4 linked regions of the Homo sapiens genome follow. The protein of the gene in region 1 purifies or fractionates together with the protein of each later gene. This does not show direct contact. Each region holds a gene or a part of one and is shown on either strand. Other genes may lie near its edges. The genes, in order: CLASRP, PUM2, GAK and LUC7L2.

Region 1 (7,684 bases):
GGGAGGCAGAGGTTGCAGTGAGTCCAGGTCACGCCACTGCACACCAGCTTGGGCAACAGAGTGAGACTCCGTCTCAAAAAAAAAAAAAAAAAAAAAAAAAAAGATAAGCAGATCTCTGTACAAAACACAGAAAAGTTTTACTCAAAAGATACATGGATAATCTGGGAGGAAAAAGCAAGTTCTAAAACACTGAGTGTGGTGCAATTCTATTTTAGTAAAATAAAAACAAAGTGGCCAGGTGTGATGGCTCATGCCTGTAATCCCAGCACTTTGGAAGGCCCAGGTGGGAGGACTGCTTGAGGCCAGAACTTCAAAACCAGCCTGGTCAACATGGTGAGCCCCATCTCAATATTTTAAAGAAAAAAAAAACAAACGTGTTTTTTAATATATAAAATTTTAAAAATAAAAAGAAAGTATCTGATATTCCTGACACTCCCATGTATGGAGCACTAACCTACACCTTTTATTTCCCCAGAAGCCATTCAACACCTTATCTCATCTAACCTCGACCCACAGCCCCATGAGGAAGATCCCATTCCCACCCCCATTCCGAAGAGGGAACTGGGCTTCAGAGAGCTATGGAGCTTGGATGAGGGGGACTGGGATCAGACTGAGCTTGGTCCCTCACAAAATCCCTTCTCCAACCACTCTTTCATCCACGAGACAACGACCTGTGCCCAGCGGTGCTACTGAGTGCCCGTTATTTCCCACTGGCCACTTCTGGAAATTGAGATTAAAGTGACTTGATTTCTCAGTCACACTGTTTTGCCATATTTGGTCATTTTTACCACAAGGCTGCACTGTATTTAAATCAGAAAAATAAAATAAAGAAGCTTCAAAGATAAAGAAAATTTTATTGGCCGGGCGTGGTGGCTCACGCCTGTAATCCCAGCACTTTGGGAGGCTGAGGTGGGTGGATCACGAGGTCAGGAGATTGAGACCATCCTGGCTAACACGGTGAAACCCTACTAAACTCTACTAAAAATACAAAAAATTAGCCAGGCCTGGTGGCGGGCACCTGTAGTCCCAGCTACTCAGGAGGCTGAGGCAGGAGAATGGCGTGAACCTGGGAGGCGGAGCTTGTAGTGAGCCAAGATCGTGCCACTGCACTCCAGCCTGGGCGACATAGCGAGACTCCGTCTCAAAAAAAAAATTTTATTTAAAACTGGGAAAACAAGACAGTGATCTGGAAAACACAAAAATGATTCAGACCCAGAACATATCATGCAGTCTGTGATCTTGGGGTGGCCTAGCAGGGTGAACCTCCCATCCCCTCCTCAGCACCCCTGTCCCCATCAGGAGGCTCCCTGTCTGCTATTCCCTGGTCCTCCAGAGCAACTTACCGCTTATAGGGGTCATAGGTGGGGCTGTCTCGGCGGGCATAGCTACAGAGAAAAGAATGGGGTGGGACAAATTAGGGCTTAAGATCTCAGCAGTCATGAATTTGGGATAAGCCCGCCAACCTGAGGACCCAAAGCTAGGTACCTGGCACAGTGAGGGGGCTGCTGACCAGGTTGGGGGCCTCCCCTTAATTCCTCCACCCACCCCCACCTCAGATCTGTCCAAAGCATGAACTTAAGCCCCACCCTACAATGTCCTAGACCCATCATGACTCTGAGGAACTTGGACTTCAGCAGCTCTGGTTCTGCTTGGCCTCCTGACCCTAGAATGAAAGCATCCCTCCTCCCAATCCTTGTCTCTGGCTCTCACTGGGTCCGGGCTTACTAATGATGATGATGATGATGATGATGATAAGATTAAAATAGGCTGGGTGCGGTGGCTCACGCCTGTAATCCCAGCACTCTGGGAGGCTGAGGTGGGAGGATCACTTGAACCCAGGAGTTTGAGACCAGCCTGGGCAACACCGCAAAACCCCATCTCTACTAAGTATTTTTTATTTTAATTAGCTGGGCGTGGTGACGCATACCAGTAATCTCAGCTACTAAGGAGACTGAGGTAGGAGGATCGCCTAAGCCTAGGAATTTGAGGCTGCAGTGAGTCGTGATTACACCACTGCACTCCAGCCTGGGTGACAGAATAAGACCCTGTCTCTGGGGGAAGAAAAAAAAAAGAGAGACTATCACAGCTGAGGAAACTGAGGCCCAGAGAGGTGAAGTCACTTGTCCAGCATTACGTAGCTCATAAAGGAGGAAACTGGGATCCAAACCCAGGCCCTATGGCCACCCAGCCTGGGCGTTCCTGCACTACCCTCTGTGTGCCTCTGTGCCACCGCTGACAGCAATGACGATTGGTGCTATTCTTTAAGGAATGTTTCCGATACCAACCGCTGAACCTACAAGTTGTTTAAGCCTTACAGGAACTCTCAGTCACTCTCCTTTAAGAGATGTGGCAAAAAGAGGCATGGGTTTGCACAGGGCCTCTCCTCAAGGCCTCCTGACCCAGGCTGGGCTTTCCTCTCCAAGCCAGCCTGCCTCATCCAAACCTGTCCCAAGACCTCCCTGTGGGGACTGCCCAGCCCTCTCTCCAGGTAGGTGATAATGCCTTGTTTTCCAAAGGAAAAAATTGAAGCTCAGAGAGTTCGGGAAGTCACTTGTCCAAACTCCGACACAGGAAGAAGCCAAGCAGCAGAACTGGGTGAGAGTCCAGGGCAAAGCCTGTGCCCTCTCTGCCGCCTTGGTGAGAGCCTTATGCCGCCTGTGCATGGGCTCCTGGGAGTCTGGCAAGGGCCCCCAGTCCAGTAGGGTGAGGGGAGGGGCTGGCAAGGAAAGGAGTCCACATGGCCCTCAAGGCCGTTCCTACCTCTAAACCTTCACGATGGCCATGCATCGCCCCACTAGAAAGACTCCTTTCTCAAGTCAAATGCCTGCCTCCAAAGAGCTTTCTCAGGCCCTAAGCCCCTGCTCTCCTCCCCCAGATGCCAGCAGGGTGGGGGTTCAGGGAGAAGCCCTACCTGGGTGGGCTGATCTTGCGACCCCTCAGCCGCTTCTCCCGAAACTCTCTCCGCTGGCGTCGAGAGCGGCGTCCCTGGAGTAGGGTGGGTGCCAGGTTGGTGAGGGGGTGCCCTCCCTGTGACACACCCCTGTCCCCTTCCACTCCAGCCCAGACCTCACCGAGTACATGGCCTTCTCCTCCTCAAGAGCCTTGGCATGCTTGATGGCCTCTGCCTCCTCCTTGTCTTTCCGGAGCATCCTATAGAGGTGGGTGAGAATTAGGGTGGAGGATGGGGCAGGCCACAGGGTAAGGAGGACACAGACTGAGTCATCAGAGAAAGTGAGGGACCTGAGTCACCCCACGCCAGCCTGAGGTATCTTTCATTCAATGCCACTTATCAAGCACCCTCTGTGTGCCAGGTGCTATCTTAGGTATCAAGAACTGAGCACTGAAAAAAAAAAACAGAAATCCTCACCTGCACGGGCTTACATTCTAGGGGAGAAGATAATGAGCAAGGGAATAAAATGTGTGGTCCATTAGATGGTAGAGCAAAGGCAGAGGAAGCTGCAGTTTTCAAGAGGGAGCTCAGGGAAGCCACACAAAACAGGGTATCTAGAGAAAAACCTGGGGGAGCAAGCTGCAGACGTCCAAAGCGAACAGCAGACAGAGTGGCCCAGGGGCTGGCCCAGGCCTCTGCACTTGAGGAGCAAGGAGACTGTGCAGGCTGGGCAGCGGGGGATGGTGGCGGTTGAGAGGACCAGATGGGTAAGACCTTTCGGCCATGGTGAGGACACTGGATGTTCCTGAGGGAGGTGGGAGCCACAAAGGGCTCTGGGCAGAGGGTGCCATGCTCAGGCTCCGTTTCTGGTTCACTGCCCAGTGAGCTGGGACCATTCTGTGTGGTCTTGTGAGCTCAGCAGGGGGTGTGGCTCAGGGTAGAGGTACAACCAGCAACTGCCAGGATAAATAACCAGGGAATGAAGCCTCTCCACTAGAGGGCGCTGTCCCCCAGCCTAGGAATCCCCAGAGCTTCGAAGAGTCAGATTCGCCCCAGGTCGCACTAAGTAGGGCAGGCTGGGTGACTTGGGTGCAGCCTGTTTCTGCACAGATGAAGTGGGGCCACGACCACCATAGGCTCAGGGACCTGCATGTGTAAAGTCCTGGGCCCAGGGCCAGGCACACAAATGCTCACAAACAGGATGGCTGTCAATACCGGGAGTAATAGTGAGATGCCAGGGTGGGGCCCACAGAATGGGTAGGGGTGTCAGCAGGCAGGCCTCACCTGACGAAGTCACCGTCGGCCATGCCATAAGTCGTGGCCTGTTTGTTGAGATCTGCCACCTGCTCCTGGTTCAATTCATCCACGTCCACCTCCACGTCTGCACCAAGAGAAAGGCTGTCAGGAGCCACGGCCGAGCGAGAGGACAGGGGAGAAGGGGCAGTGCTCCAGGAGGCGGGGATGATGGGGCGCCCGCCAGACTGAGGGATTCTTCAGGAAGGGATGGCATCAAGTCTGGCTCATCTTGGCATGCCCTAGGCTGGCACTGGGCTTGCCAGAGGTGAGCACAACACACAGTGGACAGAGGCAGCTCGGGGACAGGGCTTGAAGGGGCAGATGAACGGAGGGAGGGAAAGAGAAGGGAGAGATGGACGGATGGGTGCAGGGATGGATGAAGGGATGCAGGGATGGATGGATGGATGAATGGAATGGAGGCAAGGAAGGAAGGAGGGATGGGTGGATGGAGGGAGGGAGGAATGGATGAGTGAGGCGTGTGGTGGGGTTGACGTGAGAGGGAGGACTGAACAGGGGCGGAAAGATGGCGGCTGGAGATCACGGTGGGTGGCAGGCAGGGTGTGGGTCACAGGTGTTTGGAAGCAGGGCGTGTGATAAGCCAGAGGAAGGAGGGCTGGGCGGAGGTCAATGTGTGGCTCCACAGAGTGTGAATAAAGAGCCAGCTACTGGGCTGAGCGCGGTGGCTCACGTCTGTAATCCCAGCACTTTGGGAGGCCGAGGCAAGTGGATCACGAGGTCAGGAGTTCAAGACCAGCCTGACCAATATGGTGAAACCCCCGTCTCTACTAAAAGTACAAAAATTAGCTGGGCGTGGTGGCGTGTGCCTTTAGTCTCAGCTACTTGGGAAGCTGAGGCAGGAGAATCACTTGAACCCAGGAGGTGGAGGTTGCAGTGAGCCAAGATCATGCCACTGCACTCCAGCCCGGTAACAGAGCAAGACTCCATCTCAAAAATAAATAAATAAATAAATAAAAAGAGCCAGTTGCTGGAGTAAGAACCAGGATGAGAAAAACAGAGAGACTTGGGGGTGGTTTGATCAGTGGGAATCCAGAGGGGAGGTGAATGGCAGAGAGGAGGGTGAACAGATGCCTGGCGGATGGGGGCTGACTCTGTAAGAGGATGAACACTTGTTTTCCAGAGGAGGGAAGAGAGCAGGAGAGAGGGGCAAAGGCAGAGAGAGGCCGGCCCAAGTGGAGGAGAATGGAGCCAACACCTAGGAGGGGAAAAGATCATAGAAATAGCACCCTAGAAATGAGAGATGAGTGAGGCAGAGGAAGGCCGGAACGGAGGAGGACAGGAGTGAGACAGGGGCAGCAGGAGGCTGGTGTGCCCTGGGGCGGGGTAGGGAGAGAGACACGGTTCGTAAGCACGGGGTGCCCCACAGAGGGTGAGGGACGAGACACAGAAACGATGCCCAGGGACTGCAGGTGGGGAGGGCAGAGAGGGGACCCCACCGATGTCGGGGATGACCTCATCTTCGTCCGAGTTGCTCTCCTCCTCGGCCGCTGACTCCTCCTCCTCTGGCTTTTCTGCCGCCTTCTCTACCTCGGCCACCGTGCTGTCCTCGTAGGTATAACCGATGGAAGCCTTCTTCTCTGCCAGCCTGAGAAAGGGGAGCTGGTAAGCCAGGGCCGTGCCCAGTGGAGATGAGGGCCCCAGGCTAGCCCCACACACCAGTCTCGAGTGCCACGGCCCCCTCCCCTCAGGCTCTCCCTCAGCCTAGGACCCTCTGCTCCTGCCCACACCCAGCTCCTCCCTCTTCCTCCACATCTGAGCTCTAGGGCCCCACCTGCCAAGAAGTCCTTGACTGGTACCCTAGGGTGGGTCAGCACTGTCCTGAGCTCCCCAGCCCTGCCTTTGTTGGGTCATCTCTGTTGGGGAAGGTCTGTCTCCCGCCTAGACCATGAGTCCCACAAGGGCACAGCCCAGAGTCCTCCTGAGCAGCCAGGTGCCCCAGCTTTGCCCTGAACAGAGCAGGGCCTGAGCAGGATCCTGAGGCTGGGGCCGTGGACGAGGGCTGAAGTCTCCAAGAAGCTCCCAGTACAGTCCCATGGGACCCCTCCCAGTGGAGGAAGGCGGCAAGCAGTCAGGGGTAGCAGGAGGGAAGGTGTCACTGAGGGAGCTGCCCAGCCCCGAGCCAGGGCTCCAGGCTACCGTGCACCAGGGCAACAGCAGCTGGCCTGGAGGAGAGCTAAGCCCTGCAGAGGGAATAGCGTGTGTGAGGGCGGGAGGCCTGCACTCATCAGACTGAGGTGGAGAAGAGAGAAGTGAGACTGCTCGGCCACTGCTCCTCAGAGGCAGCTGCTCCAGGATAAGGCCCGGGTCTCCCCAGCTACTCCTTGAGGGACGCGGCTTTAAGAAGCCTCTCTCCAGAGTGACATCAGCTAGGGCTGACTGCAAGCTCACTACATGGCAGGTGCTGGAATAGGTACTTCACAAGCCCCATCTCCTGCATGCCTCCCAACTCCAGGCAGTAGGGCCTCCTGCCAGCCCCATTTTACAGGGAAGCACAGCAAGGCTCAGACAATTCCCACTCAGGGCCTCACAGCCAGGACTCAAACCCAGGGCTGTCTCACCACAGGGCCTGCACCTCCCACCACTTCCCAAGCTGAAAATGTAACGCAGAGCCCTCGGCAAGCCGGGGCCCCCTGACAGGGCTTCTTCCTCTACACAGTTATTAATTGAGCACTGACTGTGTGCTGAACACCATCCTTGGTTTCGGGGAGACCCTGGTGGACAGGATGGAAGAGGCCATGCCTGGCTGGGGCTCCCAGCCCTCCTGCCTCCTCAACCCCCTGCACCCCAGACCCCGACTCACTTCTTCTTCTCATCTTCGCTGGGTCTCTGGAGGCCTCCGTACAACTCATCAATGTAGATCTGGTACAGGCACTGCTCCTCTGAGACTGCAGCAAACAAGAGACCCCAGGTCAGAGTGGGTTGGGGACACTAGGAATTCAGTGGGGGAACACAAGGGTGCGGTGGGGCAGGAAGACAGGTGCAACCCCAGTGCACCTTGGGGGGCAGTCACCACTTCCAGATAATCAAACTATGTCTGGTGGGACACAAGCAACTGCAGCAGAGCCTTGGACACACGACCTTGGTCAAGGGACTTAACACATCTGTGCCTCAGTTTCCTTTTCCGTAAAATGGGACCACGGGCAGAGTGAGTGCCTGGCCTGGTACTTGGGCACTCTACCACCATTCTCACTGTTTCTGGAGGCCTCTGGCTGGACCCTTCAGAACCATAACCTGCTCCTGAGTGCCACACGCCATTCTGACTGCACAGGTCACTCCACTGCATGCCTCTCTGTGGCTCATTTTAAGTTAGGTGTGGGCTGGGATGACCTGGGCTCTCCTGCACCCCCAACACCCAGCCTGGGGGACTCAACAATGTACCAGAGCCTTCCTGATCTTCCCTGCAGTGAGACACGTGTCCCTGACTCGCTGTGGGACAGTGGGTTGTAAGTCCCCTTCCTTCCTTCCCTCCCTAGGCCTCAG
Region 2 (7,684 bases), on another chromosome or scaffold:
TATTAGTAAGTTTTTTTGCTTGTTTTTGTTTTTTTCTTTTAAATAGCTATACCCATGTAATTGGAGGGGGTGGTCAAACATAATCACTAACTTACAGTACATCTGCTTACAGTAGCAACATTACTTTTTAAAACACAAGCTGATTTAAATCTTTCCAATTACATAAAAGCTGGCAATAGAATCCCTCAGTTTCAGCTGAATAACTAGAATTATAAAAATTCAAAATAAAGTTTTAAAAAAATAATTTCTTTGACAAGATAGGGATTCATACACAGCCCCTGATATCCAAAGCCCTTCAAAACGTATTATCTACATGGATAAATACTTCCTGGAGAGGGAAAAAAGGTAATCACCAATTTAATAATTTGGGGGTGGGAACAATTTTAATATACAAATATAAACAAAGTTCTCAATGCTCCAACTTCAGGGGTACAACAAGCCTAAAACATTTTTTTTCTTTAACATATCCAAAAAAGAAGTATATGGCCCAAGCCTATAAGCTTCCTTAAGTGACAAATACACTAAATTCAAATTCACTGAAATAATTATCTGGTAAAATGGCCAGGCATAGAAAGACCAAAGCAAAAACCAGTGTACTAACCTAGTTCAGTAGCTATGTAACTAATGTTTTTCTTATGGTGTGCAAATCTTTTGATAGTGAAATTTCTCTTTCACTATTATGTTTATATAGTTGACTTTTCAGATGCTCTAAAACACACAAATCAAAAGCACAGACAAGAAAAAACACACCATTATATTTCATAAAAAAAACATAAGAAACAATAGGGGGGTCTTTACCTTATTGTACATTAGACCCTCACTTTGAATTTTCAGGAAAGTAGAACTTTTTCAAAAGACTAATATCTAAAAGCAAAAGCAATTTGGCATGTTTTAACCAACATTAAATATTTTACATATATTATAAACACACACACAAACACACATACATGTATACATACAAATAAAAAGGGTTTTGGTTTTTTTTTTACCTAAATGCAAACTGGATGAGGATCCATGTGATGAAAGTGATGGCGGTGGCGTAAGTGAATGTCCTGGAGTTTGGCTTGGCAGAGGCATGCCTATTGGACTTGGAGAGGAGGAAAATCCCAGACTATTGTAAAATGGTTGCCCTATGGGTGCTAGGCTGCTACTAGATCTTTTGTACAAGTCAGAGCTAGTAGATAGAGACTCTCTCCTTGTGGCACTACTACTTGCAGAACTGCCAACTGAAGAAGAAATAAAAAAAACCCTAATTACATACAGTGTTAACTGAATAAAATCTATCCCCAACTCTCGCTGGGCAATAACAGAAGTGATCACAATAATTATTTTTAGAAACATTTTGGAGAAGATAATTACTGTGATAACTATATATACTAACTTATTAATCATAAAAGGGTATAAATGCACCCCAATAAAGAACCAAATACTTAACAGAGCAGTCATATGATTCATTATTTCACACATATTTACCACTGACACATCTGATTACTGTGCTTTAATACCCTGGTATGATTTATAAACCCTGGAATTGCAAGTTGTCTGCATTAGGACATGCTAGAGATTAAATTCCATTAAGTTTAAATTCTGATAGTATCCTAATCTCTGAAACCTGCTTCTTAGACTTTAACTCAATGCCAAGAAAAGATTATATGAATAAATAATTAGTACATTTCCTTCACCATTCATATTTAATTTGTCATCTAGCTGTGTTCAAAACATAGCCCTTTAAGTCCATATTGGCCCGAATATTGATCAGTTGTGAAATACAGTGAGCAGCTAACTCAACAGTATTTTTTACACTACGCATTCTCCCTTGTTCTTTAACTACATTACAAAGTAACTCGACTTTTCTAAAATTAATAGCTCTCACTGTTATCAAACCAAAGACATACTTTCACTTATCCCACAGGACTCTTCTACTCCTAAGATGCTAGTACTACTGCCTCCTGAGCCCCTTACTCAAGGCTGATCAGGTTTTTGTCATTTGATAATACACAATTTCTCTTACTTTACATCCCTTAATACAATGCATACCAAATTTTTACTTAATATCAAATGTAACTATTATCCTTCTAATCCTTTTTCCTTTTATAGTGCAGAAAATAAAGGTCATGTAGGCCCTGGTGAGCTATACATGCTCAGAAGAGCTAATCAAGATCTGGCTGTTAATCAACACCTGTCTGGATAATCAAATTCCACAGCATGCATCTCTAAGGGCTGTCCAAACTCTCAGTTCTCAAGTCTCACTTAAAGCCCATATATTCAAGTACGTTTCCTTCCTATTTCTAAGCACTAGCCTCTTTTAACTGAATAACTTTTACATCTAAGAAAATTTCAAACCACATTTCTGAACCTGCCAAATACATTTTTAAATGACAAGCTCTATATTCGGACCAATATGGCAATGCTTTTCAAGGGATCTAAGTTTCTATTAAATCTTATTTAAGCACAAGTCATATATAAATAGGTCATACAGGGTATAAAGAAAAAAATTAAGGAGAGTACATCATGGGTAGACCAAGGTAAGAGTATAATACAGACGGAAAACTTAATTACGTTGGTTTTGCCAAATTCAAAATTCTATAAAGGGGTAAAAAAACCAGGCTTATGCTACCACATTAGGCAAAAGATTATAATGCTATTCAACCTTTTATACCAGCCAATGCAGTTTCTGAGACTGATCATGTTTTGTTGAAGATTTTACATTTTAAGATATCATAGTAAGAAAATACTAGGTGTCTATATGCATTTTTATTGCAAAAGTGAATTATAAGCACATGTAATAAACAGTTATTCTTGAGTTGGTTTTGGTAAAACTGGCAATGTATGCTACATTAACTATGCTAATTTAAAAGGACACTGTCAAAGTGATTTTTCTAAAATATGGCTACATTTTAAATTCCTATTTATTTCAGAAAACAATTTAACTGACAATGAAAAGACAACAGCTCTAATAAGAGCAGCATTATTCCCCTGACAAATAATCCAAGAAACCAGTTTTGACACATGCAATATTATTTTCCTCCAAAAAGGAAAAGTCAAGCCAAACATTTAAAAATAATTCAGAAATAACCTTAAATATAAAGAAGCTGGCTCTTTAAGTTTTACTATATGTCTAAATTATCTCCAACAGTATGACTATGAGATATGAAACAAAGTGTACCTAAAATATCTAAGAGGGTAGACAGACTGCTAATCATTCATCGACTGTGAAAAAAGGCTAAATTATAAACTTTCAATTGTAACAACACTTTAAAAAATAACAGGTCATAGAAAAGATGATTTAAATTATATGTTACGATGTTTAGGCTTCTTGGCCAACTATATCATAAAATGGGGTATTTAACACTGTTAAACATTAATAATTTCATCATAGAGGTAAGAGAAGGACTGTGTATGTTACTTGTATATGTGTATACAGGCACACAACCATATTATGTTTTAGAGCTCATGTAAGTATGTAATTGCCATAATGTGAAAAGGCAGTGTGCAAACTTGTAAGAGTCCATATATATAGCACTTGAAAAAACTCCCACAAAATGCCCAAGAGGAGAGATACGATGGACTCTTTACTGGCATTCAGGGGTGGCAATCACTAATGCTCTCTAAAGCAAGGTAAAATGAAGCTCTTACAGATTGGAGTCAGAATTAAGTAAGCCATGCTTGTAAATAATGGAGGTGTGAAGGTTAGTTTTGGGGAAACAGGGCATCTGTAGTGGACAAAATGTTCATGTCAATCAATTCCTGAAAGGGGGAAAACAGCCTTAACTAAGAAACAAATGGAAATTTGAAAGAATTGAGTAGGGGCCTAGAAATCTGAACCAGACGATCAGTGACATACTACGTGAGAAAGGAAACATGGGGTTTAATCAATGCTCTCTTTTTTCTGAATTATTTAGGGCCTACAATTTATAATTTAAAAACTATTTCCACAAGTTTGTTTTTTATGTTACTTGTTCTTCCAGTTTTCCTCAGAATATTTAGGATTCTTTGGAGAAAATGTCCCAATTGTGTTAGAAACAAGGAATGAGTCCTATGGGAGTGCGTGAGGTGGACAAAGAGATACACAACTCCAAAAGCAATGAAAAAACTCAAGTACAAAATTGAAAAGATTTAACAATCCCCATGTTCACTGGATTTTCCCTCAGAAATTCTTATGAGCAGTCTTCAGATAATTTTGTGTCAGTCCAATATGACATCCACTTATTGTATTTCATTACAATAAATGAAAAAAGATTCTGCCATCTAAAAGTTTGTGGCTGTTCTAGACCATCCTTCCTGTATATATGAATGATAAAAGTTCAGAAGACACTCCCTTAGAAAACTGGCAAGCATTGTTAATAATGCCTGGCATGTGTTAGTTCTGCCATTTTCCACACCAGAAAAGAATATAATTTGATGTGGTAAGAAAAGAGATCAGAAACAGATATTAAGGACTGTAGCAAGTTATGTTATAGAAACAGAAAATCTCTTGAGGTCCAAATAGTCCTATCCTCATGAAGTAAAAGCTGCCAGCTGCACCGATAGAACTGGGTCAGCTGTTTTTTCCCTAATGTTTCCTGAGTACTGTGGAAACCTCACAGAAAACACCAAGTGTATCAACAAGAAGTCAACGTGGGCCTCTTCTGATTTCACTTAGTTCTTCCTCTACCACAGGATCCAGGAACCAGTTTGAGTGGGTCAATTATTTAGTGAAGCTATTTAAAATTTTGATTTGTTAAGTGTTATATAAAGCTAAGATACATGAATAGATACCCTTTTAAGTGAATTTTTAGTGACAAAGGCTAACTTATTTAATCTAAAAGATAACCATACTGGTAGCTTCTTAGGGGATTCTGTGTAGAACATTTCAGTATTTATACATACACATATGTATTTTTTATATTAGGCCAAATTTAAAAACTGTAATAAACTACCAGCATTTAATAAGAATAAACCATCTAATAAGGACACAAAGATAACTGCTTTAAAATACCAAAAATTTAAGACGGCAAAATATTTGCCTCCACAAACATTATGTAGTGAATGAAGATGAGCTAATAATTAGTGAATAATATATTGACCCAAATAAACCCTACTAAAACAAAAATTACAGTAATCAATTCCTAGAGCCAGGGAAAAAGGAAATGTATTATATATGAGTAAAGAACAGGCTGCCTATAGTGAGTTAAACATTGGTGAGTGTTGAAAAGATTTGCAGGATTTTTTTTTCCTACAAATTAAACCAGTAGTCCAATACTTTATTCCTGTCCTTCCTATCCTACATGCTATTATTGCTTATTTTAATGTTAAACACACTCATATACCTCTTCCACTTAGCAGAGTACACTCATCGTAAAAACAAACTTACCTGATGAACCAAATCCACTGAGGGCTGAGCCTATAGCAGCACCCAAAGAGTTACCACTTCCAAAGCCAAGAGATGTACTTCCAGGTTGACCAGGTCCATGAGAAAATAAAGAACTACTCTGGGAGCTATTAGTCAAAGAACTGCTTCCATAAAATGAATTAGATTGCAGATTAGTGCTTGGCTGCTGTTGCTGCTGCTGTGGTGGCTGAGTGCCAATTGGCCGAAACAGACCATTTGTGCTGCCTGTAAGGCTACTTGCAGTTCCTCCAGCTGCTGCTGCTGCTGCTGTAAAATAAATTTCAGATACTTCTTTAAACCACCCAGAAAATTCTGTATTTTAAAAATGGTATCTCAACACCAGAAAAATATTATCCTAAAAATGTCAGTTACACTTACCAGCTTGTGCTGCTGCTGAACTAATTAAAACAGGTGTTGGAGCCATTAACCGAACTGGAGCTCCAAGGCCAGTCCTTGCTCCAGGGCCAACCACTAAGGCACCAGTCTGATCATAATAGGCAGTTGGAGCTAGTACTTGATAGCCTAAATAAAATAAAGGTTTACTAATGAAAGCACTTATTACAAAAACATGCATATTTGTTTTTCCCTGCATTTGTATTTTTTCAACTAGACAACACAGCTATTTGTACCATTACTATAAAATCCTTAGTTAATATATGCAAAGCAACACATTTGACAAGGTCTTACTAAATATATGAAAAAGTAATAGACTGTCATTAAACATTTTTTCTCTAAATTTTACTCAGGGGCCACAAAATGAAGAGGTATTTTCCTTAATATAGAAACTACAGGCTATGAAGGAAGGGCTGATATTAGAAAAAAAAAATCACCATTTAGCCCTTCGAAGAAGAAGGATTAAAAAAACTGGGAGTAGCGAGGTAGAACACTGTACGAAATGTTTACTGTGCAATTTCATTGAAGTTCAAAATCAAGTGCCTCATTACCAGCATTCCGTTAGATTTTCATTTGTAATCATCTCTTTAAAAACTTAAGCCAAACATTCTATTTGTGAAGATTCTCAAGCTAGAGTTTAATTAAAAATCACACAGGCTTTAGTTTTATTGTAGCCTTAAGCACAAGGTAGGTAATCTTCACAAATAGTGGAGAATAAAGTTAACTTCTTAGCAGCCTTTCTCAATGGAGATTCTCTGTTGAACCAAAAACACAGAAAATGATTTAAGTAAGTATTTTGTTAATTCTCCTAAGGATGGTATATAACAAGCATCACTCTGGAATCACAGGAGAGAAGTTAGCTATATACACTGTGGATACTTCAGAGCAGTAATAAGGCTTTATTCTTTTCTGGAACTCAGTTTAGAAAGGCTGCCTTATAAAGCGACAAAAAACTGAGGCCCAATAACCTTACAACTATCAGCAAAACATGCATTGGCAACTTTTTTTTCCCTTAAAGAGTGCTGTCTTGCTCTGTTGTCTAGGCTGGAGCACAGTGGCATAATCATAGCTCACTGCTGCCTCAAACTCCTGGGCTTACATGATCCTCCCGCCTCAGCATCCTAAGTGGCTGGGACTACAGGTACATGCCACCAGGTCCGGATAATTTATTTTTATTTTCTACAGAAATAGGGCCTCACTATGTTGCCTAGCCTAGTCTTTAACTCCTGGGCCAGCGATCCTCCCGCCTCAGCCTCCCAACTGTGTCTGGTCCTTTAAGAAGTTTTTAAAAACACAGACTATACTGAAATACATTCCAACATCAATTTTTAAGTCTTATTTTGTTAATACTATGCAGAAGTGAGAGTTACAGTAAAATTAGTGATAATGCAGCATGAACATTTTATTGCCTTTAAACACAGTAGGCTAAATTCAGCTCAAATATAATAAACAGTGCTCAGATAAACACTTCACCTGTAAGACACACATGCATAGGTTGTTTTTAGTAAATACAGTAATTCTGATCAAGAATAAGCATTAGCACGCTGCTAATAAAATATCCACATTACTAGTAAATTTCAAACTGTACATGCCAGTCAATAGTCTTAACTGGTATGTGTGGTCTAGTCCTAAATCCAAGGCACACAGAAAACATTCTTGTTCAAAAACATTGTCATTTACTTAACATCTGAATTTGAATTAAAAATAAAAGTAAATCCATTTGGACATTTGGCTATAAACACTCTACTGACAAATCAAACAGCACTTAACTGCTCCTTAACTAAATTTTGCGTATATAAATTCCCAGAGAGGAAATAACCCACAGTCAACTCAACTCTGAAGTCCTGTTCATTTACCTTCCAATCTTTCTCAAATCCATCCATTCTCTTGATGGCTACTTTCCTGTCCAACCAGATTATA
Region 3 (7,623 bases), on another chromosome or scaffold:
TGGGGTTTCACCATGTTGGCCAGGATGGTCTTGATCTCCTGACCTTGTGATCCACCTGCCTTGGCCTCCCAAAGTGCTGGGATTACAGGCGTGAGCCACCGCGCCGGGCCCAACACAATTTCTTCTTAAATGAGCTTAAGTGGTTTGTGCTTTCCAGGAATTTGTTCGTTTAGTGTAAGCTGCTGAATTTGTTGGCCTAAAGTCCTTAATAATAGTCCCCGATTATCCTTTCCGTAGTGATGTCATTTCTCATTCCTGATATTGGTAATTTGTGTCTTGCCTTTTTCTTGTTCAATCTGGCCAGAGATTTTTCAATTTTATTAATCTCAAAGAATCAGCTTTTGGTTTCCCTGATTTTCTCTATTGCTTTTGTTATCTATTTTTTTGAATTCCACTCTGATACTTATTATCTGCCTTCTTATATTCACTTTGGGTTTCATTTCCTCTTACTTTTCTAGTTTCCTTTTTTTTTTTTTTGTGACAGAGTCTCAGCTCACTGCAATCTCCACCTCCCGGGTTCAAGCAATTCTCTTGCCTCAGGCTCCCAAGTAGCCGGAACTACAGGCGTGCACAGGCATGCACTGCTACACCCAGCTAATTTTTGTATTTTTAGTAGAGATGGGGTTTCACCATGTTGGCCAGGGTGGTCTTAAACTTCCGACCTCAAGTGATCTGCCCACCTCAGCCTGCCAAAGTGAGCTACCGTGCCCAGCCAACTTTTCTAGTTTCATAAGGTGATTGCTGAGGTCACTGATTTGAGACTTAACATTTAATACTGTTTTAGCTGCATCCCACCAGTTTTAAATGCTGCATTTTCATTTTCATTCTGTTCAAAATACTTTCTAATTTCCTTTTTGATTTCTTCTTTGACCCATGAGTTATTTAAAAGTGAGTTGAAAAAATATACAAAAAACAAAAGTGAGTTATTCAGTTTCCAAATATTGAAAGGATTTTCCAATCTGTTACTGATTTCTACTTTAATATTCAATATCATTCTGGTCAGATAACATACTTGTTTAATAGAACAGAATATGATCAGGCTTAATGTTTTAATGCACTTGAAAAATTGTGTATTCTGCTGTTATTGTGGGGAGTGTTCCATAAACATTCATTAGGTCAAGTTGGCTGACAGTCATGTTCAAGTCGCCTATATCCTCAGTGATTTTCTGGGTATCTATCCTATCGTTTATTGAGAAAGAATATTCTCCAACTACAATTGTGATTTTTCTCTCTCCTTGCAGCTATTAGTTTATGCTTTGTGTATTTTAGAGCTTTGTTATTAGGTGCATAAATGTTTAGGATTATCAAGTCTTTTCGATGAATTCACCCCTTCTTCATTACAAAATGATCCTCTTAATCTCTTGCAATACTCTTTGCTATGAAATTTAGGAAATCAGTTATAGGGATTAAGACTATAACTTCAGTTTTGGATATATACATGTTTATACATGTAGCAGTATCTAAGAACAAACATCTGAGAGTTCAGATGAGATATGGAGATAGATATTTGGGTTAAGATGGTGTTACTATAGCATCTACTTCAATGCCAATAAATAAAGGTGCTCCAGAAATATTCGTAAGATAAGTAGTCTGACTCTGGTTTCCAAAGTGATTACAAGGTTTAGAAATGTCCAGCTGATCCCAGGTCATGCCAGTATAAGTTCATGGCCTCCAGATGAGTGCTTAAACGCTCTCATGCTTTCCAGTGAGTTATTTGCTAGGTTTCTCATAATAGCTATTTTAGATCTTTTTGACACTGCTTAAATCTTGGGTTTCCTACTTCCCCTCTCACTTTCAGTTGATGTTTTTCTTTCCTCATTCACAATGAAAACAGAAGTCATTAGAGAATTCCTTCACCTTCATTCCAATAAATACATAAGGTCACCTACAACTGCAGCCCATTTTTCTTCCTGAGTGTTTTTCCTATGTCCAAAGCAAATATCTCTACCTATGCTCTTGATGTCATTCCCCTCCTATGTTCTAAGAGATAGAAGATATCTCATTAAGATAGAATTATCTTATTATTCCTCTTTTTTCTGTACCAGCAAACCTTCTCTCCCTTCCATCCGCTTTAGGCTGCTCAAGAATCTCTCATCTTAAAACATCTCAATACTACATCACCCTTGTAGCTCCCTGGAGCTAAGGGTGCCGAATTTGTTGGCCTGAAGTTGTTCATATTCTCTTCCACAGACAAACATTTTGAGTTATCTCCACTTGCCATCTCTACCTCATCATCTCTTCATCCCTCTACGGTAATATGTAGCTTCCACCTCATTACTCCAATGAAGCTATTCTTGGTGAGGTCACCAATGATCCCTTGTGAATAAATCCAACACATATCTTCCATTTCTTTTTCTACTTGACTTTTAAGTGGCATTCGACACTCTTAGCTGCACTCTCTGCCCCGAACATCCTCGTTCCTTGGCTCTGTTACGACACTCTCTTGGTTTTCTTCCTCCTTCACTGACTGCTCTTTCTCCACAAACTGTCTATTCTCTGAAGATTCTAACCTCTTTATGTCTAGTACACCATCTCTGTTGGTCCTCTCTTCAGCTCCTAGAGCCAACTGCCACCTCTATGCTGAGGATGCCCAGATATCTGTCTCTAGCAGGGATTCTTTCCTGAGCTCTCTATCCTTCTATTCCACAGTCGACCAGACAAACGCACTGGCTGGAAAAGCCATGACTTGCGTTGAATTGCAGTTGTATCACTTGTTGGCCCTGGCCGAATAATGGCATTGTTGAGCATATTTTCTCATCCCAAAATAAAGGGGGTTAATTATACTGTGCTTTCTTCACAAAGATGTTTTCACTACAATGAACTATTACAGAAAAGGGTGTTGTAAGCAATAAATCAGTGCCTAAACTAAGCTATTGCTACTGTTATTTTTGTTATATATATTTTTAAAGATGTCATTTGGCTTCATGCAATACTTCATTCCATAACATAGATAAGTGTTCCAACGAGCTGAGGCTATTATCTTTTAATGATAAAGATAACAGATGTTAGCTTCTGGGACGGCTAAGAGGCTGATGTGAGCTTTAGAATCCATTTTTGAGTTGGAGAACAAATAACTCTGTTGAAGGGGTTGCAACCTTAAATGACTATAGGAACCAGGCAGGTAACATACATGAGCCCATCTGGTCAGGCAAATGACTGTGTCTTACCTCAAGGGACCACTCTAGGTAATTGGTAACACACATCATTTTGGGTCCAATATTGACAGGTTTGATTTTTCCACAGAAGCTGGAAAACTAGGTTTTTAACATTTAGGCCTTTCAATTATTATTATTATTATTATTTATTTTTTGAGGCGGAGTCTCAGGCTAGGGTACAGTGGCGCCCGCCTCCCGGGTTCAAGCGATTCTCCTGCCTCAGCCTCCCGAGTAGCTGGGATTACAGGCACCCGCCACCACGCTCGGCTAATTTTTGTATTTTTAGTAGAGACGGGGTTTCACCATGTTGACCAGGCTGGTCTGGAACTCCTGACCTCAGGTGATCCGCCTGCCTCGGCCTCCCAAAGCACTGGGATTACAGGTGTAAGCCACCGCGCCTGGCATCAGTCTTTAAATGATAGCAACTAATTCACCTCCTGCTACCCACTCCCAACCCCCAAATACTGTGTGGGCCAAAAACTAAAAATGCATTGTCTGTGAGCCATTTCCTTATTATCCTATAAGGAAAGTCACCATTTCATCTCCAAATAGTTGGGCATTACGAACCCTTCCAAGTGGTTCATGAGGATTTGCTTTTGCCTTGGAAAATGTCAGGGTGAGAACGAACCTTGAGGGTCACAGGGCAGTCTCTGCAGTGTTGTGGTTGCCCAGGACGAAGGTTTTTCTAGCCCACGGCTCCCACTACTGGTCACTGCCCCAGGCCAGACCCTGGCCCTCTCCTCGGAAGACAGAGCAATGCAGCAGCGTTTCCCCTGCAAACTGCCTGCCTGGCTGCTGGGAGGGGGCTGCCAACCTTACTCACTAAGCGTCACAGGAAACTCCGACCTCCATGAGACGAAAACCAAGTATTTACTGAAAGCTTAACGCACGCTAACTCCTTGCTCCTTAGCCAACTGAGAGAAAAATTCGCGAACCCATTCGCAAACGCGGCGCTAACAGCAAACGGGAGGCTGACTCCACCCAGAGGATGGCGAAGCGCTTAAACCGGAGACACCTGAGAAGGAGCCTCCCACAAAACAGACCATGTGGGGAACGGTACCGGGAGCTGGACTGGGGCGCTGAACTACCTGGGCGGGAATCGCCTCGGCGACTGTTCCGCGCGCCTCCGCTTGAGTCAGCCCGGCCGGGAGCTTGACAGCCGGAAGTTCATCGCAAGCCCGGCGACGCCGCGCACGCGCTGTCTCCGTCAGACCTCCGCGCCTGCGCGCGCAGCCAGGAAGTGAGGCCGCGGCGGAGGGGACGGGGCTAGGCCGGGTCGCCGCCTGACGCGACGCGTCCTCACGGGCGCCTACGTCACGGCGTCGAGGCGGAAGATGGTGCACCTCCGGGCCGGCGGTTGCTGAGCTGACCCGGACGGCGAGGGAGCGGGAGCCCGAGCCCGACCACTCCGGCTGCCGCGGGGTGCGGCGCAGCCACCGCCATGTCGCTGCTGCAGTCGGCGCTCGACTTCTTGGCGGGTCCAGGCTCCCTGGGCGGTGCTTCCGGCCGCGACCAGAGTGACTTCGTGGGGCAGACGGTGGAACTGGGCGAGCTGCGGCTGCGGGTGCGGCGGGTCCTGGCCGAAGGTGAGGCCCCGGGTCGGCAGCGCGGGTGCGGCCGCGGAGTGTTGTCTCCGGGACGCTGGGGGCAGCGTCAGCCCGGAGTGGAAGGGCGTGGGTTAGGGCTGGGGAGGGTCCCAGCGGGATCGTGGGTCAGGGTCGGCCAGGGGAGGGTCTCTGCCGAGGGCGTGGGTCAGGGCCAGGCGAAGGTCATAGCGCGGGCGTAGGTGAGTGCCTGCTGGCGGTGATTGCGGAGGGCGAGGCTGGGACCGGGTCGGGGTACTTTCTTGTCATAAGAGTAGGGTCAAGTCGGAGCAAGGCCTGGGGCTTGGGGAACCCCCTCAGGGTGGGTGGGGGAAGATGTTACGGTGAGGTGGGGGATGGTGGCAGGCAGGGAGCTTGGGTGGGGACCCACAGCGGAGACTGAGGGACGGTGCCTAGAAGGCCGACAGCTGGAGTCAGGAGGTGAGCGGTGCAGGAGGTGGGTTTAAGCCTTGGCCTTTTGCCGGACATCTGGGGTTATTGAGCAGGCAGGGACAGGACTGGACTTTGGAGGTTAGGGCTGGTTCTTCTACAGTCCAGGGAACTTGAGAGTTGGTGGGTGCACACGTGTTGCAGGTAGTTGCGGTTGTAGCCTGGGGGGTGGGGGGGTTGGCCGAGGGTAGACTGGGCTGTGTCTCGTGATCCCCCTTCGTCTTTCAACACCTCAGTGTTTCTCTTCCCGGTGAACATCTACTCGTGTGATTCCGTGTGTAGTACAGGAAGCAGAGCCAGTGGTTGTGACCTATATAGAACTTGCAGAGTGGACAGGTCACTCGGCTTAAGTCCTCTTGAGTCAGTCTTGAGTCAGTTTTGTCTCTGCATGCTATTTCTAGCTCCCTGGATGTCCTCTCCGTTCACACGGAATCGATCACCAGTGCCAGTGGGTCCCATTCTCTCTTGTGGATTTTCCTTACATTTTTTGTCCAGTGGTGCCTGGAGGTGTGTCATATTTCACTGGCTGTGAAGTTTATGGGCTAAACACAGTTGACTTGGGTGCGGAAGCGTAACTCTATTCTGCTGTATTGGCACAGGGAGAGGGAGTGAAGCGACACAAAAGCCCTCACCCTCACCAGCTCCCTGGTACCTCTCAGGGCTGGAGGGTTAGCCTGTCCAGGTGCCTGCTCTGTGACCAGACAGGAGACTATCCCAGAATTCTGATTATCACAAAAGGCCTGCGGAGACATTTTGACTGTAGCATTATCACACACTTTGTCTCCATTGTGGTCAAAACCAAACAGATTTTGGGTATGATTTGGTCAGAAAGTCTAAGCTCTTCTTTCAGAAGTGGGGGCTGAAGTGTGATATTCTTTCACATCAGTTGGAAGATTTCTCTCAGATCAAATCATTTATTCTGAAAATACTAGGTGGTTATCTTCATTCTTTAAGAAGTTTATTGTGGACAGGACTTGCTTTCTGGAACTTCAGACTTGTGCTCAAGGGGTGGAGAGACAGAGGCAGCACAGGGACAGATCCTTAGGGGTGGTACAGACAGTGTGAGCTTTGGGAAGGGGCCAAGCAGAAGATGGCACGGATCTTGGTGGGAGGGATGGAGAATGCACCCTCACTGGGGCCCGGAGAGGAAGATTCGTATAAAGAAAGAAGCTTGTGGGTCACTTAGCACCCAGGAAGAAGAACAAGGAAATGTGGGCAGCTGCTGAGGTTGTGCAAAAGAACTTGTTTCCCTTTGCTATCTAGGCAAGTCAGGAGATAAAAATAACCAATGCAATTAGGAGCTGTAGATTTCCTCCTTGTAAACTTAATAGGTGGCCTGCAGCCTCCTAAGTACTTTGAAGCCTCTTTGAACTGAAACAGAGTGTGAAAGCTGAATTAAGTATTTTATATAAACATACTTAATTAAGTTTTGTCTGAACAGCAACCTTAGAACATAGGCTATGGGAGTTTAGGCTGTCTTGTGTAAACATGGTGATGGCTGGTAATCTGAACCCTTGAGTACAGATGTTTACACTTCCAGAATTTTTCAGGTTTCAGAATGGTCATTGCAGCATATAACCTGTATATCGTGGGATACTCCCAGAAGACTTGGGAAAGTATTCTGTAATTGAATACATTAATATTTCTGTAATTAAATGAATAAATATTCTCACTGTGGGATAATTAAAGTCTGTAATTAACCCCATATCAGTTCATGTCAGGTTTTATCCCAAATGAGGTTATTATGATAGACCAGGATTTGCTGTCAAGTGAGTTAGGAAAAAATGGTTTTCATAGCTTTTAGGAATTTGGACTTGTGGTGTGAATGGGTTTTTAGGTAGAACTGTGGAACCAGATAGCTTTCTAATTTCTTCAAATTTGTTCTGTCATCTTCCTTTTTTTTTTTTTAATTTAAGAGACGAGGTCTTGCTGTTACTCAGGATGGATTTGAACTGGGCTCTGGATCTTCCTGCCTCGGCCTCCCGAGTAGCTGGGCTTACAGGCATGTGCTGCTGCACCTAGCTAGTCTTCACTTTTTTAAAAGGCAGATTATCAGGAGCACCAACCATGTCAGAGATGCCCAGGGCAGGTGTATGCTGTGTGTTCTTTGTTTTGGGTTCTGCGTGCCGTTGCTTCTGAAGTGGAGCCTGTGGTGCCCTGACTGCAGGGAAATCCACCTTCCCTGTGTGGCTGACTTGAACTCGGGGTTACTGCTAGTGAGATAAATTGAGGCAGAAAAGAAAACGATGCCGCACAGCCGTCGTATGGTTTAAGCGTAACCCGCCTCGTGCGTTTGGTTGGGTGTTGTATGTAATTTGAGCCAGCCCGCAGCCCTTGTGTGCCATGCGCAGTGTTAGCTGAGTGGCTGGGCCCGCTCAGGAGCCTTGGGGGTCAAGCTCTGGCCTAAGGAATGGGGAGGGCACAGCCTACTCCCA
Region 4 (7,684 bases), on another chromosome or scaffold:
CATTACCTCCTCACCCCCTCAAGGTTTCTTCCCCCTCCCCTTCCTGACAGTTTTTAATTAGTTCCTTTTAAAATTCATTGGAGATTTAAGTCTGTTAGTTAAATATACCTTAACTTGAATTACATAAAGTAGTTAATCATTTAGATTACCTAAACTTCACTGGAATCCTTAGGAGTAGGAATTTTGTTAGCAGGGAAATGGAGAGGTAATTTTGGATCACTGGGCACTTCAAGAAAGGACATTCCTGGGTGAGTGGTGGAAGTTGGGGGCTTTAGACAATCTGAGGGCAGCATGATGGTGCCGGGAGGCTGGGCAGGGGGACTGCCAGGAGGTGGGAGAGAAATGCATAAGGGAGGTGGGAGGGCCAAAGACAAACTCTGCCTTCTTTGCAATTTTGCCTAGGGCCCTGGTGGTGGCAACCGCCTGTGTGCCACTGAAAATCGTGCCGATGCCTGGCATACTGCATAAATGGAAGCAGGGTACCGCGTGAGTTGAAACATTGGTCACACTATATAAAGTTTGTATATGTGAATCAGTGTAACTCATACCCATATAACTGGGGGTCTGACTGTATTTGGATTTTTCTGATAAGGCATCATGGGCTAAGGAAAAGAGCACTGGGCTGAGACTCAGGAGACCTGGTTTCTAGCCCCAGCTGTACCTCTAATTGTAACCTTGGGTAAGTCACTTAACCTTTTTTGCCTCAAGTTAAATCTGTAATTTGTTATATGGGAAACCAAATAATTTCCTATGTTATACTCAGAAATGTTGAAAAATAAATATATTTTAAGTTTTTTTAGAAAGGAGCTATAAGTAGATAGTAATTACTAGTTTATTTTATCTTGTTTATGATTCATTACGTTTTATAAATATCTTTCTGTTTTAGTTGTTAGCAGAGGGGAGAGGGATAATTTGTTTTCCCTGAACATATTCATTCTATTTGAAAGCAGGGAGGAGTTGCACAGGAAAATCCAAGAAACAGTTTGAGAATTGTCTGTGTGACAGTTGGAAGAACCCAGTACCCTCACACAGACTGTGATTTTTGCTCAGTTGGATTAATTGCAAGGATGTTCCTTAGCTAAAGCCCCTTTGCCAACAAACACAGTTTGGTCATAAGTCTCTAGTCTTGATCCCAGGAAAGTCTGGGAAGATGCAAGCAATAAGAATTAAATAAAATTGAGGGTGTGGATTTAGATTACATCCTTTTTTTTTTTTTTTTTTTTTTTTTTTGAGACAGGGTCTCTGTTGCCCAGGCTGGAGTGCAGTGGCACGATCTCGGCTCACTGCTACAACCTCCACCTCCTGGGTTCGAGTGATTCTCCTGCCTCAGCCTCCCGAGTAGCTGGGATTACAGGTGGCTGCCACTACGTCTGGCTAATTTTTGTATTTTTAGTAGAGATGGGGTTTCTCCATGTTGGCCAGGATGGTCTCGAACTCCTGACCTCGGGTGATCCACCATGCCCAGCCTAGATTACATTTTAAGCTTAGAAATTAGGTAAGTTATAGAAGGTAGTTCTGAGGGTTCTGTATCTCTTAATTGCTTATACCTTTAAATGGGAGCAGAGACCACCTTCGAAAGATTAAAATAGGCAGGAATGGCAGCCTGCCCTCCAAAACAACAAGTAGACTAGGAATGTTAGATAGAATTTTATAGCATCATTAATTGTCCCTTATGGTTAGGGACTGTTTCGGGCAAGTTAAAACTTTCAATAATTTTAACTATTTTAAATGTTAATCTTTCTAAATTGTAGGATATACTTCCTCAGTTAACATATTAATCATAATATTTTTGCTGATCAGTTGTACAGTAGTTATAGTTTGTGGGATATAAAACTGAAAGGATACTCATCCTCATACCCAGGAAAATACTGTTAAGAAAGCCATTTACTTGTTGCTAATGTAAGGTTAGTAGTACATAACCGTGTAATCTGTAAGATAGTATGACATTTCTGCCTTTCTGCAAAATTACTGAATCAAAGTTTGAAGTAGTGCGTTCTTTAATGGATTTTATTTATAAAATCATCTTTACTGTAATCTGTGTTCCTTGACTTTTCATCAACATTGAAAACATTTTCTCTTAATTTTTTCTCATTAACATAATGAACCATATTCATTTCTTGGTCAGTTGTGAGCCATTCTTTTATTCCACTTGGATTGTTCATTTTAAGTGAAGGAGGCGGAGCCTTTAATGTATACGCAGACATTTTTTAAATAATAACAGGATATTTCTTAGTCTAGAGCTTGTAAATTCTTTAATATAAGGAGTTTTATAGGATTAAACAGTAGTTTCTCTGCGTTTCAGTTAACTATTTAACTTTATCAGAGTTTCAGGCATATCCAAAACACTGAAAGCACCTGCATAGTGAATCAATGAAAAAAGAAAAGTTTTCCTCATTTTGCATTTTGAACTCTGAATAATATTTCTATCTACACAGCAGCCCAGAAAACAATAAAAGTATCACTTCATATAACATTGCATCGTTCCTGGATTCTCTACAGTTGTTTAGTTCTCCTCAAGTAAGCATATGCTTCTGAGACATTCTTTTACTTCAGGTAAATATAAGCAAAACAAAGAAAAATCATTTTGTCTATTTCTGCATCAGTTCTATAAGGAGCAAGTAAATTCTTTTATTTTCGTTTAGGTTGGATGTTGTCATATAAGGATAGATGGTAGTGTTCAACGTGTTCAAGATGGGTAGTAGGAATTCAATGGCCATGAGGTGTCATGGATCAAGGTCAGGTTTAGTGAATCAGGTACTCTTCAGTAACAGGTGGTTCATACAAAGCATTGAAGCTTAAAGTTGCTGTGAGTTCAGCAAGCAGGAGGGTTGAGAAGACAGGCAGATGGTTTAAAACTAAAGGTCAATAAGTGGGCAAGACTAGTTAAATGAGGCAGATACTCCCCAAAGATGGAATTCCAGAAAGGTGCTTGAAAAGGACTGAATTCTTAAAGCCTACTGCTGTTAGTATGTAGAGTTCTTGAGGAAACAAGCAGTTTGGCATAACTTAATCTACTAAGAAACTATAAGAAGGTGAAGGAAGTTGGAACATCTTACTGGAAAAAGAATGAGGGAGTGAAGAGGGAATCTTGTGAATTCAAAACTTGCAGAAAAGCTATTCTGTTTCCTTTTTGTTTAGGTTCTCATGCACTAGCAGCTGCTAGAATAGATATTGGAAGGCAGGGCCAAAATAGGTCAGTTGTTCAGTTTTGCAAGATTATTGAGGATATAGAGAAATTAATTTGTGAAAACTCTGAAATCATCTGCAGCTCCATGTTTTTGTTTGAACTGAATAACTTAGGACTTTGAGAAGTCAAAGCCGTCAGAAAGTAACATGAAGTCCATTCAGCTGAATAAATGTCATATTTTGCTATTAGCATAGAAAAGAATCTTTAAAACTTCTTTCCAAAAAGCACTCAGTATTGACCCATATGTTCCAGTATAGTTGTGAACCATGTACAACTGATGTTTGACTTATTTGACTCAACATGAAAGGAATTTAACCAGCTGCCCTTGCTGAATCTTGTCTCCTGAATATGGTAAATGGTTTTTGTTTTTAATCTTAATACCTTAGATTTCTGCAGACCCCAGTTTTCTCTTTTAGAGTTAACTGATAATTATTGGATAGTATCTATAATATACCTGGCTGTTCTGTTCTGTACTGTGCTCTAGTATTAGTTTAAATGGTAGACTTTTCTCTTAAAGTAACTTTAATAGTTTAATAGTTAAAGTTACTTGAAGGTATGTTTTAGATCAGGGACTGGCACTATGGCCTCCTGCTTTTGGTAAATAAAGTTTTATTGGAACACATCCATGCCGATTCATATACATGATGTCTATGGCTGCTTTGGCTTACGACAGCAGAGCTGAATGGTTGCAACAGAGTCATATGGCCCGCAAACCGAAAACATTTACCATTTGACTCTAACAAAAGCTTGTTGATCACCATTCTGGTTTAGTTATTCTAAACCAAGTGTGGTCCTTGGAGCAGCAATTCAGCATCACCTCAGCATCACGTCGTATTGTTAGAAATATAAATTCTTGGACCCACCTACTGAGTCAGAAATTCTGGATATGGGCCCCAGCAATCCATGTTTTTAGAAACCTTCCAGGTGATTCTGATACACATTAAAAGTTTGAGAAACCCTCTTCTAGATCAGTGTTTCCCAAATGTTTGTCACACTTATTGCCTTTATTATTATTTATTTTTATTTTTTATTTTTTGGAGACAGAGTCTCTGTCTCCCAGGCGTGAAATGCAGTGGCCTGATCTTGGCTCACTGCAACCTCCGCCTCTCGAGTTCAGGCGATTACCCTAGCTTCCCGAGTGGCTGAGATGACAGGCATGCACTGTCATGCCCTGCTAATTTTTGTATTTTTAGTAGAGATGAGGTTTTGCCATGTTGGCCAGGCTGGTCTCAAACTCCTGACCTCAAGTGATCTACCTGCCTTGGCCTCCCAAAGTGCTGGTATTACAGGCGTGAACCACCATGCCTGGCCTTGCCTTTATTATTATTTACTGTTTTCTGTTTATTTAATATTTTCCTTTATGTCAACTCACTTTCTAAAAATTTTAAGTTAATTTTAAAATGAAAGTTTATACCACCATAAAAATAAATACAATGAAAACAAAATGGTGTATTATGTAACTAGACTCTTGTCACTTAGGGTTCCTGTGCTAAAAATTAGAAGTTGTTAAATTTATTAAACAAGTACTGTTGCAAAATGGGAACTTTTTTTCTTGACTTAATTGTGATTAATAATTTCCTTACTGAGTGGTATTTAAAATGTCTTGTTGGCAAAATCATGTAACACCTAAAGTCATCTTTTGTGCAAATCTCATACTTTGGAAATTACTGTTCCAGGGAGTATTCATGTGAAAGGAAAGCTGTTTGAACTATATATATACCTAAGCCTGTAAGCAGAAATGACTGGACAGAAATACAAGCCTGTGAGACAGAGAGATCTAGGAGATCCCTAGAGAGGTCCATCAAGACCTCCAGGATGAAATTACCTCATTTAGCTCAATTTCTCACCTCTCCGTTAGTGCTTTGGTCCACGGGGGTCAGTGTTTCTGCAGGATTTCACCAACTGGTTCCACAGTGGGAATGTGAAGAGGTACCTGGCTGTGGGAAAAGCTGCTTATCAAAGAGAGGCCTGATAGAAATGCTAGGGAAAGTGGCTGTGAGCCTGCATTATGGACGGGAGCAGAGCGGCAGGGCATGTTGCTAGGACTAAGCAGTCGATTCACGTGAGTCTGGACACCATGTATAAATATTTTGAAAACTTCCTGTTACAATTTAATTTACTCCATTGTGTTAGAGGGAGTGCTTCCCTGCACATGGTGTTCTGTATATTTATTGGTTGATGTGCTTTAGGGTATAGTAATTATTTATAGCAATAGATTGATACCCAGGTTGCAGAGTTGCTTTAGTTATATCTTTATTTCCTTTTCTTAGAGATTATAGACATAATTTGCTTCTGTCATCTTTTGACCAAAAATCTAATGGGAATGAAGAATTACACTTGAATGTTTATTTTTAAGTAATAAGTTCTGTGATAGTGATTATAGGTGTCTGCATTTAAAAAAATGTTTTAAAAAGTACAGAGGTCAAACAAGCATCTGTATGATTGAACAAATGTTATTTCGTATATTTCTGTCAAATTTTAAAAAATGGATAAAGAGGCCGGGCACTGTGGCTCACGCCTGTAATCCCAGCACTTTGGGAGGCCAAGGTGGGTGGATCACCTGAGGTCAGGAGTTCAAGACCAGCCTGGCCAACATGGTGAAACCTGTCTCTACTAAAAATATAAAAATTAGCCAGATGTGGTGGTGGGTGCCTGTAATCCCAGCCACCCGGGAGGCTGAGGTTGGAGAATTGTTTGAACCCAGGAGACGGAGGTTGCTGTGAGCCCACATGGTGCCAATGCACTCCAGCCTGGGCGACAGAGTGAGACACCGTCTCAAAAAAAAAAAAAAAGTAAAAAGTGCATAAAGCATTACAAATAAAGTCTTTTGTGGTCCCCTTCACCGTCTCAGTCCTTTCCCCAGAGGCAACCCTTTTTGTAAATTTGTTGCATATTCACTGTGAGGCAGTATTTCTGCTGTGTTGTTTAGTTTTAAGGCTCACGTCTCCTTCATGGTGATCTGTTTTTCATTTTAACTTCTTCCTTTATCATTGGGTTGTCTATCACCTCTGTCCCTTGATATTTTCATCTTTTTTTTTCTTTTTTATTTCTTTTCCTTTGGATTTGGGGAGGCTCTAGTTGGCTTCTGTAGCTATCACCAGCTGATGAGAACTTGTCTTTTTTAATAGATAAATCAGCCAGTTACTTTTTCTTTGATTATTTTCAGCTATTGCTTGATAGCCAAAGATAGCTTTCGTTACTTCTAATTTTGTATATAGAAAGTTCTGGATGATAGAAGGCACCGGCTATCCAGAGTGCAATTGTTACTATGTCAGAATTACAGCTCTGCAAGTAAGTATCAAAATATAAAATTTAGCAGGCTGTAACTTTTTATGCCATATATCTTAAAATAAATTCTATATAACCTATTTTAGGACTTAATGTTAAAGTAACTATTCAGGCTTTTCTGATGTCTCTTGTAAATTTAAGAAGAGGAATAGGCTGATAGATTTCCTAAAGCACATACCCCCCAAAACATGATAGCATTGGTCCCTGCCAGCTACCAAGACCCTTTGCTTGTATTAATATAATGAGAGAAGATAGGTGCAGGGCATGGAATAGAGCCTTGGAATGGAGATTCTTTAGTATTCCTGTTCTCACATTTTCATCATCACCATTCTGGTTAGCTTCAAAAGATCCTACAAGGTTTTTCTTCTACTAACAAGGCTGTTCCCCAGTTTCATTCTTATAATCTTGTGATATGGATTTTCACAGACAAGTGGGCCAGATTTTTAACATTTTAAAAACATTAATCTTTGATCATATCCAGCAAGAATGAACTTGTTCTGGAGATTTCTTCTACAGTGGGCATCACATTTTAAAAATGTTTGGCTTGTCATGGGGATTATGGTGGGGGGTGATACTGGTACCTATTTCTGATTATAAACTTATGGGACCATATGAACCAGAAGATTAAGAAGGATAGCTTTTCTGAGCTGTATAGCACCCTTGTGTTTACATTTTCTGGAGGAAAGGAAAGCTGCTTTGTTTTATTAGGAACGACTTGATGTCACATTTGGAAGGCAGACTGTCATAATTGTTTTTTCCCGTTGCCATCTTTGGCATAGTACTCTTTCTTCCCTTTCCTTATGTAATAAATATATGCCTGGAAAGTTTTACATAGATCAAGACATATTAAATGTTTTCAAAGCATCTGTATTATTATGTTAAGACATGGTGATGAGTCCTTTTGTAAAATGAACCCTATACTTTGGATGGTTTAAATATACAGTGGGTTAAACTGAGTGTATATATTAACAGGGGAACATGTAGCAAGGGAGTAATGTTTTTTTAAAAGGTTAATTACAAAAGGATTTGTATAGGTGGATTTTAAGCTGAATTCTAAAGGAACAACAAAGGTAGGTGGGAGAAGTTGGTAGAGTGGGTGAGAAAGTTTGAGGAAGATGTAAAAATGATCAGATTGGCTCCTTAGTATAAGAGTTACTGTGCAGCAGTAATCATCGCTTTTACTTTGATTCCACATGAAGACACAAGGGT

Evidence for each region.
Region 2: the proteins of CLASRP (region 1) and PUM2 purify together in Homo sapiens (affinity purification with mass spectrometry; 2 studies listed by BioGRID and IntAct, with this or other methods). This does not show direct contact.
Region 3: the proteins of CLASRP (region 1) and GAK purify together in Homo sapiens (affinity purification with mass spectrometry; 2 studies listed by BioGRID and IntAct, with this or other methods). This does not show direct contact.
Region 4: the proteins of CLASRP (region 1) and LUC7L2 purify together in Homo sapiens (affinity purification with mass spectrometry; 4 studies listed by BioGRID and IntAct, with this or other methods). This does not show direct contact.

Annotation. Positions count from the first base shown.
Region 1 is NC_000019.10:45,055,855-45,063,538, reverse strand, and holds part of CLASRP (CLK4-associating serine/arginine rich protein), read right to left. Parts: intron 7,090-7,684; coding exon 7,005-7,089; intron 5,790-7,004; coding exon 5,641-5,789; intron 4,272-5,640; coding exon 4,175-4,271; intron 3,151-4,174; coding exon 3,072-3,150; intron 2,986-3,071; coding exon 2,912-2,985; intron 1,386-2,911; coding exon 1,344-1,385; intron 1-1,343. UniProt on the Homo sapiens protein: Probably functions as an alternative splicing regulator. May regulate the mRNA splicing of genes such as CLK1. May act by regulating members of the CLK kinase family.
Region 2 is NC_000002.12:20,277,594-20,285,277, forward strand, and holds part of PUM2 (pumilio homolog 2), read right to left. Parts: intron 5,894-7,684; coding exon 5,750-5,893; intron 5,639-5,749; coding exon 5,354-5,638; intron 1,227-5,353; coding exon 990-1,226; intron 865-989; coding exon of another isoform or gene 818-864; exon of another isoform or gene 709-817; coding exon of another isoform or gene 614-708; exon of another isoform or gene 1-613. UniProt on the Homo sapiens protein: Sequence-specific RNA-binding protein that acts as a post-transcriptional repressor by binding the 3'-UTR of mRNA targets.
Region 3 is NC_000004.12:929,161-936,783, reverse strand, and holds the start of GAK (cyclin-G-associated kinase), read left to right. Parts: upstream 1-4,467; 5' UTR 4,468-4,596; coding exon 4,597-4,741; intron 4,742-7,623. UniProt on the Homo sapiens protein: Associates with cyclin G and CDK5. Seems to act as an auxilin homolog that is involved in the uncoating of clathrin-coated vesicles by Hsc70 in non-neuronal cells. Expression oscillates slightly during the cell cycle, peaking at G1.
Region 4 is NC_000007.14:139,362,774-139,370,457, forward strand, and holds part of LUC7L2 (putative RNA-binding protein Luc7-like 2), read left to right. Parts: intron 1-7,684. UniProt on the Homo sapiens protein: May bind to RNA via its Arg/Ser-rich domain.